Linked DNA regions of Homo sapiens: region 2 is linked to region 1. Evidence: fine-mapped expression QTL. Tissue or cell type: tibial nerve. Region 1 holds a variant in brackets; the other region holds the start of a gene. All regions are shown on one strand. Distances are between the middles of the regions.

Region 1 (8,265 bases):
TGCTGAAGAAGGAAGATGTCTCTGGTCCCTTTTGTCCCCAATATTTTACACATACAGAAGAATGTAAAGAATTATACGGTGGTTCACATAGCCACATCTAGATACATCGCAGCTGTTGGCCGTCAGCTCTCTTTCCTTTCCACATATCTGTGCAGCTACCCATCCATCCAGCTTATTGTTTTTAGACTTTTCAAAGTCAGCTGCAAACATCAGTGCCTTTGTTCCCACACATGTCATTAACTGGAGTCCAATATTTGTTGATGTTCTTTTGTGTTCCGTCAGCTGTACTGCCTTGAATGTTGATGTTTGGAGTTTTAAGAGAAAGAAGCTCATTCAGCTTCAACCATAACCCCTAAACCCCCGTTCCCACCTCCGTCTCTCCTCAGGAATCAGATGGAGGTGGTTCTGGGCCAGAGACAAATCTAAGGGAAAGAATTGCTGTTTCTCCTGCACGGCAGAGGAGCGGCTGCTGGGTAAGCAGCCCTTTCTGGCTGTCTCTCTCCAGGTGAGGTGAATCATCTCTCTGGAGGCTCCCTGAGCTCTCAGGTAAGCAGATTCTGAGCCCCTTCCCCACCGGCTTCAGACTCGAGGGTTCCCAGTGTCGCTGCAGCAGCTGCTCCTGCTGAGGTGTGCAGGGGAAGGGTTTTGAGAGGCTTCTCATCTGCAGAGCTGGTGTTAACAGGCAGACAAGCATTGCTCAGGATAATGCACAGGGGCTGGAATGGGAAGTGTCTGGCACTCAGAGGTGACCTGGAGGCCTTGAGGTGCACAGTTTGTCATCATCGTAATCAGAGCTGAGATGCACCAAGCACCTCCCAGCGCCAGACCCGGGCTGAGAGCTCACTGCGTGTGCCTAGCGTGCTCTTCATACCATCCTCGCTCTATCATTATCCCCTTTGCACAGATAAGACCTGTTGGTGACCATGATCTTGGCAGCTGTGATAAGAATATGTATAAACCCAGCCAGAGGAGCTGGTTAGGACAGATTTTTCTGGCAGAAAGTGGGGTTGGTGGTGTAAATTGTAGGTTTTCAGGTGCGGTGAAGCCAACAGATGAGACGATTGCCATTGTCACTCAGTTCCCGAGAGGAGGGTCACACTATGATGCTCAGGGCCCCATGCGGAAGCACCAGGGTTGGGCAGGTGGCAGAGAAGCTAGAGGAAACACAGGCAAGAGCCTCGGCCGAGGTTTCCGAGGGAAGAAACTGGGGAGATAGGATGAGCAGGCTTAGGACCGGCTAGTGTGAATAATTTCTGTTGGGTCTGGGGCATAGGGGCTGTTTCCAGTTGTCTGGCACCTGGCCCTGGGGTGATTACGGCAGGGGAATAGAGGCCCAGCATGGCAGAGCCTGCTAGAGGAGACAGGGTCTGCATGTGGGCTCTGGACTGTGTGGTTTGCACATGAAGGGCACACTCATGGGGGAGTCATTTGCTGTCTCTAGGACTTGACTAGCCCTGGGGGGAGCAGTCCCTCCAGTGTCAGTGAGGATCTAGGTGTCAAAATTTCAGAAACACGTGGTTAATACTGTGGGATGGGGCAGGAAGCACCTATCAGGTATATTTGAACATCTTCTCGCAGCCATGCAACCTTCAGCACCCTACGGCACCCACGTGGTTCCTCGTGAACTGTTAATCAGCACATTTCTGGCCATTTGGAGAATCTAAATGTGGAGTCCTTGAATGATACTCCAGAGCTTCATGGGGCCCAAGTGAGACTGTAAGGTCCTTCTTATGGCTCCCAGGGAAGTGGCCACTTTCCACTGCCTTTGGACTAGCCACCAGAGTCACTGTTGCTCTGCCCCTTGGCTTGCCTTGAAACGCTCTCTGAGATACTCGCACTTCTGGTGAGAAGGTGAGTGTGGTGTCCAGGTGCTCACTGTGAAGATGGGCAGGCATTATTTGGAAGAAGTGGAAGAAATGGGAACTTGGAAGTGACTGGGGAGGCCAGAAGAGGGGAGAGGGAAGGGGGTCCCAGGGTGGGAAGTCACTGTTGACAGCTTGAGGGTTCTGTGTCCATTCCAGTGCAACAGGGTGTGTGGGAGCGCCTCTCTTGTGACATTGAACAGGGAACGGGAGAGCATGGACTTGTTCTCTAGGCCTCTGCATTTCTTTGTCCTCTGCAGATAGGGCACAAGCTGTGTTGGCAAAAGCTGGTAAAACACTGCTAACAGGCAGAGAAACCATACATTCAACAATAAGTATATCTAGCAAGGCATTAAAAAATGGAGAGTAGGTTTTTGTGACTAAAAAAGTCTACCTAATGTTAAAATAATAGGCGGTGTTAGTCAAACTGGTAAAAAGAAAAATGAAGCAATCAGGCAAGTCTGCTGCTTGAATTCATACAGACCCAACAATTGACCATTGTTTGAACACTCAATGTCTTAGCTGTTCCTTGTTAAACACACTGTTGGCACAGCAAGCATTTGAGAGAAGAAAGCTTCAGTAATCTAGAGCCACCGCCAAACAGTAGAGCAGTAGAGCAGATTCCTAGGATGATTGAGCATGGGGCTGTTGACAGGCAGGCTGTGGGTGTTGGCGGGTAGAGGGAGGCATAGGCTGAGTGTCTTTCCACGCATTTAACACCCCAGCTCCAGTCTTGGCAGCTACTGTTCCATGAGCAGAATGGAGTTCAATGAAACTGCTTTTGCAAAGACTATGACAGTGAGAAAAATCTGACATAGAAAAATTATGACAATGAAAGAAATCCGACCTGACTCCACCTTGCTTCTAACCTCCAAGCTGTCCTTGTTTGTTTCTGGGCATAGGCCAAGCCAACTGTGGGAGGAATTTAGTTTAACTTTAAAGCAAAGATGATAACAGTCTCTTCTTGAAACTAACTACGTCCTGGCTCAGGGACCAAATATGTCTTTGCAAGACTAACAAATTAGCCACAAGATTAGAATTATGGTTCAGGAGCCTTGTAGCCAGAGGTCACAAGCTTTGTAACTTCCCCATTTGCTCCTATAGGTGACATCACCATTGCAAAATCTAAGATTGGTACTTGAGGTATTTTTCAGACTGCATTCCAATGAACAAGCTGGTGCCACCTGGACTGGTACCCCATACCATGAAACTGGCTCATCTGACCTTGCAATCCCACCCAGGAACTGACAGAGTGTAAGAAGACAGCTATGATTTTATCCCTAACCCAACCAATCAGCATTCCCCATTCCCTAGTCCCCTGCCTTGAGAAACCCTAGCCTCTGAATTCTCAGGGAGACTGATTTGAGTCATAAACTCCCATTTGCCACTTGGCTAGTCCTGTGATAATTAAACTCTTTCTCTACTGTAATACTGCTGTCTCAGAAGATTGGTTTTATCTGTGCAGCAGGCAGGATGAACCCATTGGGCAATTATAATAAAGCAAATGCCAAGGGGCAATTGGCCGCCATCAGTACCATCAGTATGGGCTTATCGGAAGCTGACAGTCACGAAGAGTGAGAGGGTAGGGGGATTTCATTTTAATAAGTTTTCGGATACACTTACTGTATTTAGAAAACAAAGAAAAGTTCACAGCAGGAATACTGTAATTACACTATCTGCCATTCTTGGGGGGATGCAAGGAAATCTTTAAAACAGCAATGCCACAGACACACAGCAGTTTTTTACCTTTTAAATATGAATTTATAATAATAAATCTCATATTTATTTTGGTACATATTTCTCCCAATTAAAAACAATATATAAAGCCTGATCCTAATTAGGAGTAAGTCAATGTCACTTTGACAAAACCACAAAAATATTGATTTATTGACTATTTTTAAAGAAATAAGCCTTATTCTGTACACATTTTATCTGTATTTACTGAATTCTTACTTGAATTTAAAACTTTTATAACAGAATGCAGACAAGAAATAACTTTTGTAATCTCAAAAGTGTTTAATGAACAGATTCTCAGAAATATTTATAATTAGCACCTTTTCTCTTCAGCAACATTAAAGCTAGTTGTTCATCCCCTTAAAATAGTTCCTTGATCCCCCACCTTTGTTAATACCATTAATCGGTTTATAACCAGCACAAAGAAAACTCAGCCTAATGCATCAAGATGGATTCTCCATTGGCAGATCTAAGTTAATGATGTGTAACTTAATGTTTTCTTTTTAAAAAATCAAACACTGTTGTGTTTAGTTTTGGTTGTAAATATAAGTTCTTGGCAAAAT[C/T]TGTCATATGATAAAGTAGTTTTAGAAATCTGTATTAAAAAATTAAAGTAGGTAGAATACAGTGACCTCATCCCTCTGCACCTGTGCTTTGGTCCCCATTCACATAGAAGGAGGGATTGTTCTCTGCCATCTACACCCCTCTTCTCCCATCTATAACAGCCTGGATTACTTTGATATATTTTTTAAAAATTTTTAAAAAGATGGGGTCTCAGTATATTGCCCAGGCTAGTCCTGAACTCCTGGGCTCAAGCGATCCTCCTGCCTCAGCCTCCCAAAATGCTGGGATTACAGGTGTGAGCCACCATGCCCAATCAACCAGGCTTACTTTGGGATATTGTTTTTGGGCTTTTAGCTTAGGGCCACGTTTTGATTGGATTAAGCCCATTAGCATATGTGAAAGATTATATTTTCCAAGGATGACTGTTCTTCTAGAAGTTTCTTCTAGAATCTTGCCCCTCTTCCATCAAGAGATAGAGTCTATGTACCCTACCTTTGAATATGGGTGGGTTTTTGTGACTGTTTCAACCAATAGAGTAGGGCAGAAGAGACATTATGTGATTTCTGAGTTTAGACCACAGAAATGCCAAAAACTTACACCTTATTCTCCTGGGACACTGTATGCAAGCAGTCTCATGGCCCGGAGGCCTCCATATTGTGGGGAAGCCCAAACTGGCACAATTGGAGAGACCACATAGAGAGGCCTCAAGACTGCCTTAAGGAAAAAAAGATGGCCAGGTAGCTCCTAGCACCATCGACTCCTCTTCCCCACCACTGTTCTAGCCCCAACCACCATCTGACTGCAAATCCATGAGGGGCCCCAGGAAAAGTCACCTAGCTGAGCTTACTCAAATTCCTAACCCACAGAAACCATGGGAGATAAGTGATTTGTTATGTTGCAATAGATAACCAGAACAGCATGTCTCATCTCTGTGGCCACAGTGATTGTTGCAGGATAGACACATGACCTAATCCAGTCTAAATCAGTGCAAGTCTTAATATGTTTGCAAGGCATGCTAGACTATAGACATTCTCCTCTCCTCTGGGCTCAGTAAGGTGCTGTAGCCAACTGACTACAGTAAGGGGAGACAGCCTGAGAACCACTCTGGCACACAAAAGAAGAACAGAAAGGGATCATGATGACATCATTGATCCTTGAATCAAATCTTACCCGAAGCTACCATTTGACTTACTCAACACCCATGAAGCATCATTTATAGTCAAAAATGTTCAGAGTCTCAAGTCACTATACAGATACAGAATTCAATCTCTTGTTTGATACCCAAATCTTTCCTATTTTATTCCTATTTATTTCCTATTTTATTCCAGCCAGATGTTTTCAACCTTCAATGACAGACCTCACCACCTGAAGCAGGTGTATTCCAGCCCCAAGCAGCTTTGTTAAGCCAAAATCTGTCTCTCTGCAATAGTTGTCATGAGGTAGAGTGGAAAATATCTAAGAATGCTATGCATAAGAAGAGTATCTAGGTTTCAGCAAGTTTCTTAAAAAATTGCCTGATATTCAAATTGCCAAGATGGAGAAATATGGGCTGAATTTCATTTTAATCTGCTGAATTGACAATTGGTTGAATGCTTTAAAGCTAAAGAGCATTGATTCATTGATCAACCTAAATCAGCATCAGATAGGAGGAGCTGCTAGTCTTTGGTCTCCTGCTCCTGTCCATATGGAAACCAGAGACTTGGATAGGCCTTTGAGATCATGATAAATAAACCCATGAGTGGCACGAGGCTGGGAGGGACAACTATTAACGTTGGATGAGAAATTGAGCTTCCAGAATACTTTGATGCACTTTGCTAAACATTTACTGAATTAGACAAGATAAAATTTAAAAGAGATAAATATAAAATCCTGCTCTTTAGTCTTCTAACACTCAAGTGTATACATATGAGATAAGTCGAAAGTGACTGAGTTCAGAGGTAACACATGAGGAAAGATTTAGGAAATTTACTTGTCAAAAATCCCTGCCAGACAAAAGGATTACGCATCTTTCAAAAAACTTCTTGGGATCTTTGGTTTTATAACAGAAACAAAGTGTTCAAAATAAGGTGGGCAGTGCCTGCTTCCTCATGGGTCGACTCATCCTGGATTGCAGTGCTCACTTTATGGTGCCATGCATTAAGGAGAAATTGACAGGTCAGGGCATACTTAGAAGCAACTGGTGGAGGGTGAGAAAACTTTAAACCCGATCATAAGAGAAATGATAAGAGGATATGGATTCTTGCCTGGAAAGGGCTTGATGCAATATTGGGGCTACTGGAAAGTCTGATAAAGTCACTATTTTATCCTTTTGAGGAAAGCACTCTGTGGAAAGATTCCCAATTGCCTGCCAAGTCAGAACTTTAAAGCGAAAGTTTCTGGAATCTATCTGCCTTAATCTGCAGTTCTTAATCTTTGCAGAATTGGGAAATGCCATTGAGATGCTGCTGGAAGCTTCAGAACCATTCCCCAGAAAAATTACGGAAACTAATAATTTGCAAAACTTTCAGGTTTCTAGATTCCTCTAAGTTCAACAGATCCCTGATGAGAATTCCTGATGAGAATCCCTGCCTGGAAAAATGGGAGACTGAATGGATTAATCTTGCAAATTGTCATAGCATCATAGAGCACACAAACCCTCATTACATTATGACATTATATAACATTCCTTGAAATATCCACTCATTTCCCTCTGCCTATTTTCTTTTCTTCAAGGAAAGCAAGTATTATAAAACTTGTTGTTGTTAACAGTGCAAAGTTTTCTTTTGGAGGTTTAATTTTACCTTCTCACCTTCAGAACAATGCAAAGACCCTTTGAAGTTCCTTTCCATTTTCTTTATGTCTTTCTTTAACACTCTTTTCACTTCCTTCTCTCTTTCTACTCTCTTCTCTCCCATCTCTTCTTCCTCAACAAGGATAGGTAGCAGGGATGAGGCGGCAAAGGGTGAGGGAGTGTGACCAGAGGGAAGTTGGGACCAGCCAGGCGCTCTTCATGTTTCTTCCCTGACTTCTGGCCCTTGCTTCTTCTCTGCATACCACACCCACCCCCAAGAATTCTGCAGATTGATACGTTCAGATAGAAACTTCAGTGCAATAGCCACAGTGACTTCATCAAGAGGAACATTTGAGTATTGAGAGGTGGTGTTTTCTTGTGTTGGTCTTTTTATGACAAGATTCTTAGCTTTGATAAAATAGGCTATGAGTTCAGTGAAGATTATACATTAACTTGAATTGTAACTCAGTTTAATCACAGTTGACCCTTGAACAACATGGGTTTGAACTACACGGGTCCACTTATATGCAGATTTTTTTCCATCTTTCCTGCCACTCTTGAGACAGCAAGACCAACCCCTCCTCTTCCTCAGCCTACTCAACATGAAGAAGACTAAGATGAAGTCCTTGATGATGATCCACTTTTTTCCACTTAATGAATAGTAAATAAAGTTTCTCTTCCTTATGATTTTCTTAATAATATTTTCTTTTCTCTGGCTTACTTTATGGTAAGAATAAAGAATGTAATACATATAACATACAAAATACATGTGAATTGACTGTTTTTGTCATCAGTAAGGCTTCCAGTCAACAATAGACTATTAGTAAAGTTTTTGCAGAGTCAGAAGTTGTACATGGATTTTTGACTGCATGCCTGTAAGCTCTGTGTCGTTCAAGGGTCTACTGCAATTGTGAGTCTTGTTCATAAACAAATGGTTTATGAATTTTTGGTAGATAGAAGCCTCATGCTATATTACCTTTGTGCCTTTCATAGAAAATTGTAACATTGGCCTATTTTACTGTCTCTGTTTTATGCAAACTACTGGTGTGTGCTACTCACATAAAAAATGATAATACCAGATGATTAGCACCTGGATCACTAAATTTTAGTTAATGATATTAGGAATTGGTGGATCACCAGCTAGGTGTGTAACCTTGGGCAGTCCCTAAGCCTCTCCAAGTCTCAGTTTTACATCTGTAAAATGGGAAGCATAACGTATGTTGAAGTTTACTGAGGGTTAAATGAAATGATTCATGTAAAGCACTTAGTCCATATCCAGCACATACTAAAAAAAAAAAGTTAGTTATTGTTACCTTAATGAATGTTACCTTTGCATAC
Region 2 (8,000 bases), 260 kb after region 1:
GTTGACATACAAATATATTTATATGAAAAGTAACTGTTTCCCAAAACAAAGAGAAATGAGTGAGAAGAGCAGCTTTGTTTCTACATTTTGGCAAATCTTTTTAATAGAATATCTCCGATCTGCTTATGCATTCAATCTATTGCAATATGTCGTTTTGCTTGGAGAAAACCCAGCCTCACACAGATGTGTAGCTGGACAACTATTTCAATAGCCTTTTTGGATAATTTTGAAAAATCTTTGATATTACACCAAAATTCATCAAGTAGCCAATTCTTAGAATCTGAAATCATATGAAGAATTTTTCATATTTTGTTACATTAAAAATCCATTGGGCTATCATGCACTTTGAACAGACCTTTTACCCATGCAAGATTGTTGTAAGGCTATACACTGGTCATTTGGATCTATTGGTTTATTTGGTTATGCAGATCATCCAAATGTTGACACATTTTATGAGATGACATTTACAAATCACATTCATTTATATCACCATTGATCTCACTAGAAAAAAATTTAAATATTGGGAAACTTTCAAGCTTACAGTGGTGGAAACAACTTGGCAAAATTCTGATTTTCACTTGAAAGCTGAAATGTTATCATTGGCAAGCAATAATAGCAGTTATTTTACTAGAAGTAGCAAGTTCCCTTTGTTCATTTTTGAGAAAACATCGGCCAAATACCCAAGTCAGAATAGCTCTAGTTTGTCTGTTGTCATTCTTTGTGGTAAATACCACATTCCATTTTAAAAAACCAGCTAGCTTAATGCATAACACAAACAATCACACCAGTGCTTCCCCCTGGGGTTGCCACTGAACTTGGTCATCAGCAGTAGTAACTTATGTGTCCTTCCCATTTATTTACACTATTAAAAAGACATACACTCAAAGATACAAAGATTTGGTAAAATTAATAATTTTACTGTGGCATCAAGAACATTCTTAATGAAACTGGCAAATTTTTTTTAACTGCAAAGTCCCCCCAAAATTCAAAGACTACTAGTGCATGGTGATGTCCCTGCCTTGATTCTCAGTAAGACACCCGCAGTTTACCCATCAAGCTTTTGCACCCTCAGTGCAAATGTCAACTGTGAAAAAGGAAAATAGCATCTTAGTAATCTTAGTATTACTTTGAAAATAGTTTTGACATGGAAAATTCCCTAAAAGCTTCTTTAAAGAAGAAAATAAAAATCATCCCTAACCATCCTAAGATACCCACTGCAAATATGTGCATGTGTGAGTACATCCACATGTGTTTAGAAAAATGTATCATACCAGACTGGCAAGGCCATCATAATTTTAATGTTTGCATAGTATCCTATTGTAGGGATGAATATGAGTGGAGGAGGGGACACTGCTTGCTTATTTTGTTTTATGTTTAATTGACCCTACACTGAAGGGCTTATCCAGATCTTCAGTGTGTCCTGCTTTAAGCAAAGTCCCTCGGAGCCACTATTATGTGGCCGTGGGTAATTTCCTTACAGAGATTCTGGCCCCAAAAGGGTGGTGAAGGGGAGAGCTTGACACAAGCAGCTCGCTTGGTCCATGCATTAGTTCAACCAGAGAGAGGGAGCAGTCTATCCATGACGTTGCTGTCAAAGGGAGCCCATGAAAGAAGTTATGTACCCCATAATTTCATCCACAGCATGGGGAGCTATCTACAGGTTGCTATGTCTGTTTCTATCCTTCTATTACTTAATTTAAATTTAGTAGATTTCATTCTGAAATGTGCCTGTCCTCCTTTGTCCACCTCTAGTCTGGTCATCATTTGACTGTAGATCCCACGTCAACACAGTAGAGAGAAGGGCTGGGAAGCTGTCCAGCCCCAGCATTCCTCAGCACAGTGATTCACAGAGCAGAAGGCGAAAAAGCAAGAGTGCAGATCGCGGTGGGATTCCAGGAGCTCTCACAAACAACCCCGCTCGGACCCACTCACATGCAACCCACGGGCAGGTGGCAGAGGAATCGGAAAAGCAGAAGGCTGGAATCGCCACAAAGCCAGGGCAGCACTGGTTCCAGTTTCAGATCATTTTCAGAAACAAAAACTCTTCCAGCACTCTGAAAATTTTCACTTAGAAAAACAAAAGCCAGGAGTTGTAGGTGGGGAAGTTGGAAGACTTTATTTAGTTTTATTCCTCTCAAGTACTGTGCAAAGTATTCAGTGAATACTTTCCTAGAGTTCACTAATGGGAAGAAAAAGACCCTACGGCAGGCACTGCCTTTTATGAGAAAGTGGCATTGGCATCAGAATACCTCGCATAAACCTGAGCCAAGCATTGGGATGATGTATCTACCAAAAAGTCACAAAGTAATGTGATCCCCAACTTTTCTTCCTTTACCCCTGAAGTAAGAGAACAATATATACACTAAATAGCATCATAAAACTGGTACCCTCGTTGGAATAGTATCTGACGATCATTGTCTGCTTCTTGGATTTCTACAAACCAATAACCTAAAAGCCAGTTTCAAGTGTAAAAATGCCTGCAAAGGAGGTGGTAACAAGGGCCGCCAAAGGCTTAGGAATGAAAACCTCGCCACAAACTTGTCTCTCTCTGCAGGAAGCTTGCAAGAAATCTGACAGGAGCGCGCTAGCATTTTCTGAAAAGCATTGCTCTCAAAGGAAGCATCCATCCTGGCTGCAGCCTCAGCCATTGGGGAAGGGCGAGTTTCTCTGGAATCAGCTTTCTCATTTCCCTCTCCCTCCTCTCAAGACAAACATTTTCTCCCAGCTTGAACGTTCCCCCCGGGCGCGCGGGCCTCCTGCCGCCTGGAGCCGAGCTGGCACTGGAGCGCTTCTCCTCTGGAGCGCAGAGGCACCCGACGCCCTGCGGCAGCTCGCAGCCTTTCCCCCACGACCTTCTAGAACAGCCCTGCTCTGCCTCCCTCCGGTCTCCCGAGTGCGCCCGTCATCCTGCCTCGCGAGAGGTGAACGCGGAGAAAGTAGGATGACCACCTACGCTCCCGAGAAATTCTGGGCAAAGAAAGGCATTACCCCAGTCCGCACGCTGAAAGTCGCCTTTCTTTTCCTTTTTTCCCCGCTGTGCCTGAATCTCCCGGGACACTTAGACGGCTGGAGCCTCCCGACTCCAAGGCGGGCGACGGCAAAGTTAAACGCCAGCGCGCTGCGGTCCCCGGGCACCGAGGCGTCCCCGCTCCCGCCACCCACACAGGGCGCCAAGTGCCCCGACCCGCGAGTGACGAGGACGCACAGGCTAGTGACACGACCCGTAGCCAGCACTGAGCGGGACGACGGGGCCCGAGCGCAGGAGGGTGCGCGGGGAGCTGAGGAGCGCCGGGGGCCCGGGCGCGGCGCGTACCTGAGGCCGCCGCCGAGGAGGCGACGGGGAGCAGCGCGGCCAAGAGCAGCAGCGCCGCCCAGGACAGCCGGCGCGGCGCGCGCAGGGTCGCCCCGGCCTCGGGGGCCATCGAGAGCCCGGGGTGGGCCGGGGCTGGGTGCTTGCGGCTGGCAGGGGGGCGCTGGCCGGAGTCTGGGGAGTGCCGAGGCGCCGCCGTCGGGTCCCCGCCGCCGTCCGTCTGTTCTGCGCGCTCTGCGCGGTGCCCGCCGCGCCCCTGCCCCGCGGCGATCGCTCCCGGCCGCACACCGGCAGCCGCGCTCCGCCACTGAGGCCGCCGACCTCCCGCCGAGCCTTTTAGCTGCGCTCGGGCGCCCCCTGCCGGTGTGCGGGGCCGGGGCCAGGGCCGGCGGGGGCGACCCGGGCGACAGGGGCGACGGGGGCGGCGGGGCCCGGGCTGGAGGCGGGCGGGGCGCGGGACGAAGGGGCCGGAGCGCCCCGGACTGACTTAGCGGTTCTGAACTTGGGGCGGTCGCTGTGCCGGGCCAAGTGGCTGAGGAAGTTCCTCCCCTCGTCTAACCCTCTCATTTTCTGGCTGGGGAAGTCGCCCATCGCGCCGAGGAGTGCCCTTTGTCCCCTTACAGAAACACCTCTGCGCCCCAAGTGGGGACTCGGGCCGGGACCCCTCACCCGGTCCGCAGCGCTGTAGTTCCTGTGGCTAGCCCAGTCCTTCCACGTCCCTACCCGCACCCGGCGCGCCCACGTCAGGGGTTTTCAGCGTCCTTAGACCCTGCTCCGTCTGGCTGTCATTTCTAGGGCGCGCACGATGCGGGTCGAAAAGGAACCCAGTTTTCAGTGTGCCTTGTTGCCCAGGCCAAGGACTCAGCGGACCTCGCCTCTCCCTTTTCTGTAATTGTAACACTGCCCCAGGTCTCCCTATTCCTCCTTCTCCCTATTCCTCCTTCCAGCCTGGAAGCCTCGCGGCCCTCCAGATGGACTCGGAGCGCCCCTGGAGGCTACAGTGACCTAAGCTCTAGGAAGGCCGGGTCCTGGACGCCGCGTGCTGCTGTCCGCCGCCGACCGGTGTCCTCGCAGAGATAACCTGGCTGAACTCACCGCCCAGCGCTATGTCAGTTCTCCCTCATGACAACCCAAAACTTGACCGGATTTGTGTTCTGCAGAGAGGAAAAAAAAAAGGTAAATGAATTGCAAAGAGATGAAAACCAGAAATACAGTATCTCTTTGAATTTGAGCACCCAGGAAAGGTGTAAACCTACCGCCTTCCTTTCCAGGAAACTCTCCTGCTTCCCAGCAAAGGTTTTTGTTTGTTTGTTTTTCTTTTTCTTTTTGTTTTGAGACAGGGTCTCCCTCTGCCTCTGCCGCCCAGGCTGGAGTGCAGTGGTGCAGTCTTGGCTCACTGCAACCACCATATCCCAGGCTCAAGCCATTCTCCTGCCTCAGCCTCCTAAGTGGCTGGGACTACAGGTTTCAGCCACCATGCCCAGCTCATTTTTGTATGTTTTGTAGAGACAGGGTTTCCCCACGTTGCCCAGGCTGGTCTCCAACTCCTGAGCTCAAGCAATCCGCCCACCTTGGCCTCCCAAAGTGCTGGGATTACAGGCGTGAGCCACCACGCCCAGCCCAAACACACTTTCCTGCATTACTCCCTTATGTTATCATGTTTCCCCACATGCCATTTAATGGAGCTGTGTGGTTTCTGTCTCACCAGCAGCCACCCGGCTCTGCCTATTTTGGGGGAATGGTAGCTCCCTCCCCAACTCCAACCAAGTGACAGGCCCCCTCCTTACTCCCACTCCTTCCCAAAGCCCCACTTCCCCACTGGCTCAGGGCTCTGCAGTGGCCTAGACAGGGTCACTCAGAGTTGGGACTCTTCTAACACGGGCTGGTGGAAAGGTCTCTTTCTCCCATCATTCGTGGATTTGGAAGGATGGTAGCCATGGCAGGCTGAAACACAGCCTTCCTCCCCAAAAAGACATTCCTGTCCTAGTCCCTGACCCTGTGAATGTCACCTTACATGGTTTATTAAAAAGCAATTAAGCATGCTGAGACAGAGAGATTATCGTGGATTATCTGGGTGGGCCCTAATGCAGTCATGTATGTAACTTATAAAACAGAGGAGAGGGAGATTGACGCACACAAGAGAAATCCAGGTGAGGACGGAGGCAGCCATGGGAACGATGCACCCACAGCCCAGGGATGCTGGCAGCCCTCACCAGAGGCTGGAAGAGGCTCCTCCAGAGCCTGTGCTGGACTTCAGGCCAGTGGAACTGATTTCAGACTTCTGGCCTCCAAGACTGAGAGAGCAGATTTCTGTTGTTTAAGCCACCCACCCCGTTTGTAATTACTTCTTACAGCGGCCACCGAACACCAGTGCAGTAGCCAGGATGGGCCTGTGGCTCTGGCTGCAGCCTCCAGGGACACCAGCTGGAGAGAAGGAAGCCACGCATGGAGAGCGGCCAGGTGGGTAGAAAAGAGCCGGGCAGATGCAAGAGTCCCGGGCTCCACCTCACCCCTGCGCTTTCTGAACGCTGGTTCTGGGGACAGCACATTCCCTTTTGCTAACTTGGAATGAGATTTCTATTTTCTATAACCAATGAGTCTTGACTAGTGCACTCCCCCCTGTTCTTAAGAGGACAAGAACCAAGACTTATCTTTATTGCTCATCTGTCACCCAAAAGAGGCCATCACAGAACCAAACACAGTAATATCCAGGAAATGCTGAGGTTAATTGCCATTCATTCATTCATTCAGCAAATACTTATTGTGATCTACTCTGTCCCCAGCACTGCTGTAGACCCCGGGGATTAGCAGTGACTGAAAGCAGATGAATAGCAGGAGTTAAGTTAAAAGCAGAGAAGGGGAGGCAGCACTGAGGACTTTACAGGCTGCAGGAAGGGTTTAGGCTTTCAATCTGAGAGGTGAAGGGCAACACTGGAGAATTCTGATCAGAGGAGACACGGGTAAGCAGGCTCTTACAATCCCAGTGAGGCAAGACGGTGCTTGGACATGATGGACAGCAGTGGGGCACGAGAACCAGTGAGGTTCTGGATGCATCTTAAAGGTATGGTTTGGGAGATTTTCTGACTCATTGGATGTGGAGAAAAAGAGGATTTGCAATATACCGAGTCACACTATTCTCATGCTGCTGGTTAACTCTCCATTGTGACTTCTGTAATTTCAGGATGTCACTCTTTAGTTTCATTGTAATGAACTAATCATATGCCATAATCTCTATATGCACACAGTGAAAGCTCAACAGACATCAGTTTCCTTCCCTGCATCCTCAGGAGATGCATGTGCACTTACCTTCCTCCCCAGAATACTTATTAGAGCAACTTTCTTAGGGGTACATTTCAGAGTGAAGCACAATGCAAAATTACTTCCAATTTTAGAGTTTCAGAACCCTCAACCATGGGCTGTTTGATATTAAATGAAATTACTGACACTTATGAGTTCTGATTCTGATTTCATTACAAATATGAGAGTGTGTGTTTTAATCAAAAGGTATTATTACCTTTAGGCTCAAAATATCTTAAAGAAAATGGAACTCGGAGTCAGTCATCTGTTCTCAACGTGGTCATCTCAAAAATATGAGCACACGGAAGTTTTCTTCCTTCTTGTCAGTTTTGAGTCCAATATCAATACTGTTGTCCTGTGAAAGATTTTAAGATTTAAATGTTTTTTCATGTAATTTCCTGATGTCTTGATTGTTGCTTCTATTTTGTTCATCAAAACCAAACAGAGTGGAGGTTGCTCTGGGGCTGGATGGATGGCCAGTCATTAAAATCAATGCCTTATTAGTCTGCCTTAGTTCTGTGGTCTTTTCTGGCTTTACAGATCAGCTTGTGTTCATATACACTATTTCCTGTTCTAGTTATTTTTAAAATAACTATACATCCAAGGAGTTCAGCACTCCTCATACACATTGTCGTGGCATTCCTATGTGATAGGGTAAATTAAATTGCTATTCTCGTGTTTCATATGGATAAATGGGAAGCAAGTTCAAATGACCTTCCAGTACAGACTCAAGTAGAGCGTTGAAAGTGCGTGTCTCATATTATTCATCTGACATTTAATCTTGTTCAGTCTTCAATTTGGCTCATGTGGCTCTTTAATTCCTTTTTAAGCACCACATTTGAATATATCTGCATATTGTGATCGCCGCAGGACACTACACAATACCCATTACACAATAGTGATATTTTTAAAAGACTACATAGAAGGAGAACAAAAGAGAGTGTGCTCCTACAGCACTTGCTGTGATTGTGGGGAGCTCAATAAATCGGACACAGCAGATCTGGAGGAACACAACAGTCCCCAGGATTCTATGAACAGAGGGAAAAGGGAAAAGAAAATAGAAGCAGGCAAGTCGACACTGCCATCTCAGTTTCGCCTTGACCTGGGAGAAGGGTGATAGAAATAGCTTCTAGCTGGCAATAAAATAAAATAATAAAATAATGCTTTACTTCTTTTCTTGAACAGTACTCATTTCGTTCCGATTCTCACAACAACTTTAGGGGCACTATTCTGATTTTACAGGAGAAAATCAAGGCTCCAAGAAGGCGTGTGGCATGTGCTTGGCCCTTTAACTGGTGCGCCTGGGAGTCCAGTCTGAGCCTCTGACCCCAAGTACACATCTCTCTCCACCACACGTGACTCTCAGAAGGTCCTTCCCTCTCTCCCATTTTCA

Evidence for each region. PIP is the estimated chance that this variant, and not a neighbour inherited with it, causes the effect.
Region 2: FNDC1-AS1 starts here. The variant in region 1 is fine-mapped to the expression of FNDC1-AS1 in tibial nerve (GTEx, PIP 0.95).

The regions. Positions count from the first base shown.
Region 1 is chr6:159,428,763-159,437,027 of GRCh38, reverse strand. No RefSeq gene overlaps it. Among named protein-coding and RNA genes, the nearest start is that of LINC02529, 49 kb to the right of the region's middle. The variant C/T (reference allele first, on the strand shown) is at 4,160.
Region 2 is chr6:159,165,019-159,173,018 of GRCh38, reverse strand. It overlaps FNDC1-AS1 (FNDC1 antisense RNA 1), which reads left to right and starts at 3,012. Exons shown (of 4, transcript NR_121668.1): 1 at 3,012-3,207; 2 at 4,258-4,486; 3 at 5,665-5,770; 4 at 6,831-7,120. FNDC1 (fibronectin type III domain containing 1) reads right to left here and starts at 3,619. Exons shown (of 23, transcript NM_032532.3): 1 at 3,314-3,619. The coding sequence starts at 3,422. RefSeq lists an enhancer at 2,265-2,764 and a silencer at 3,571-3,740.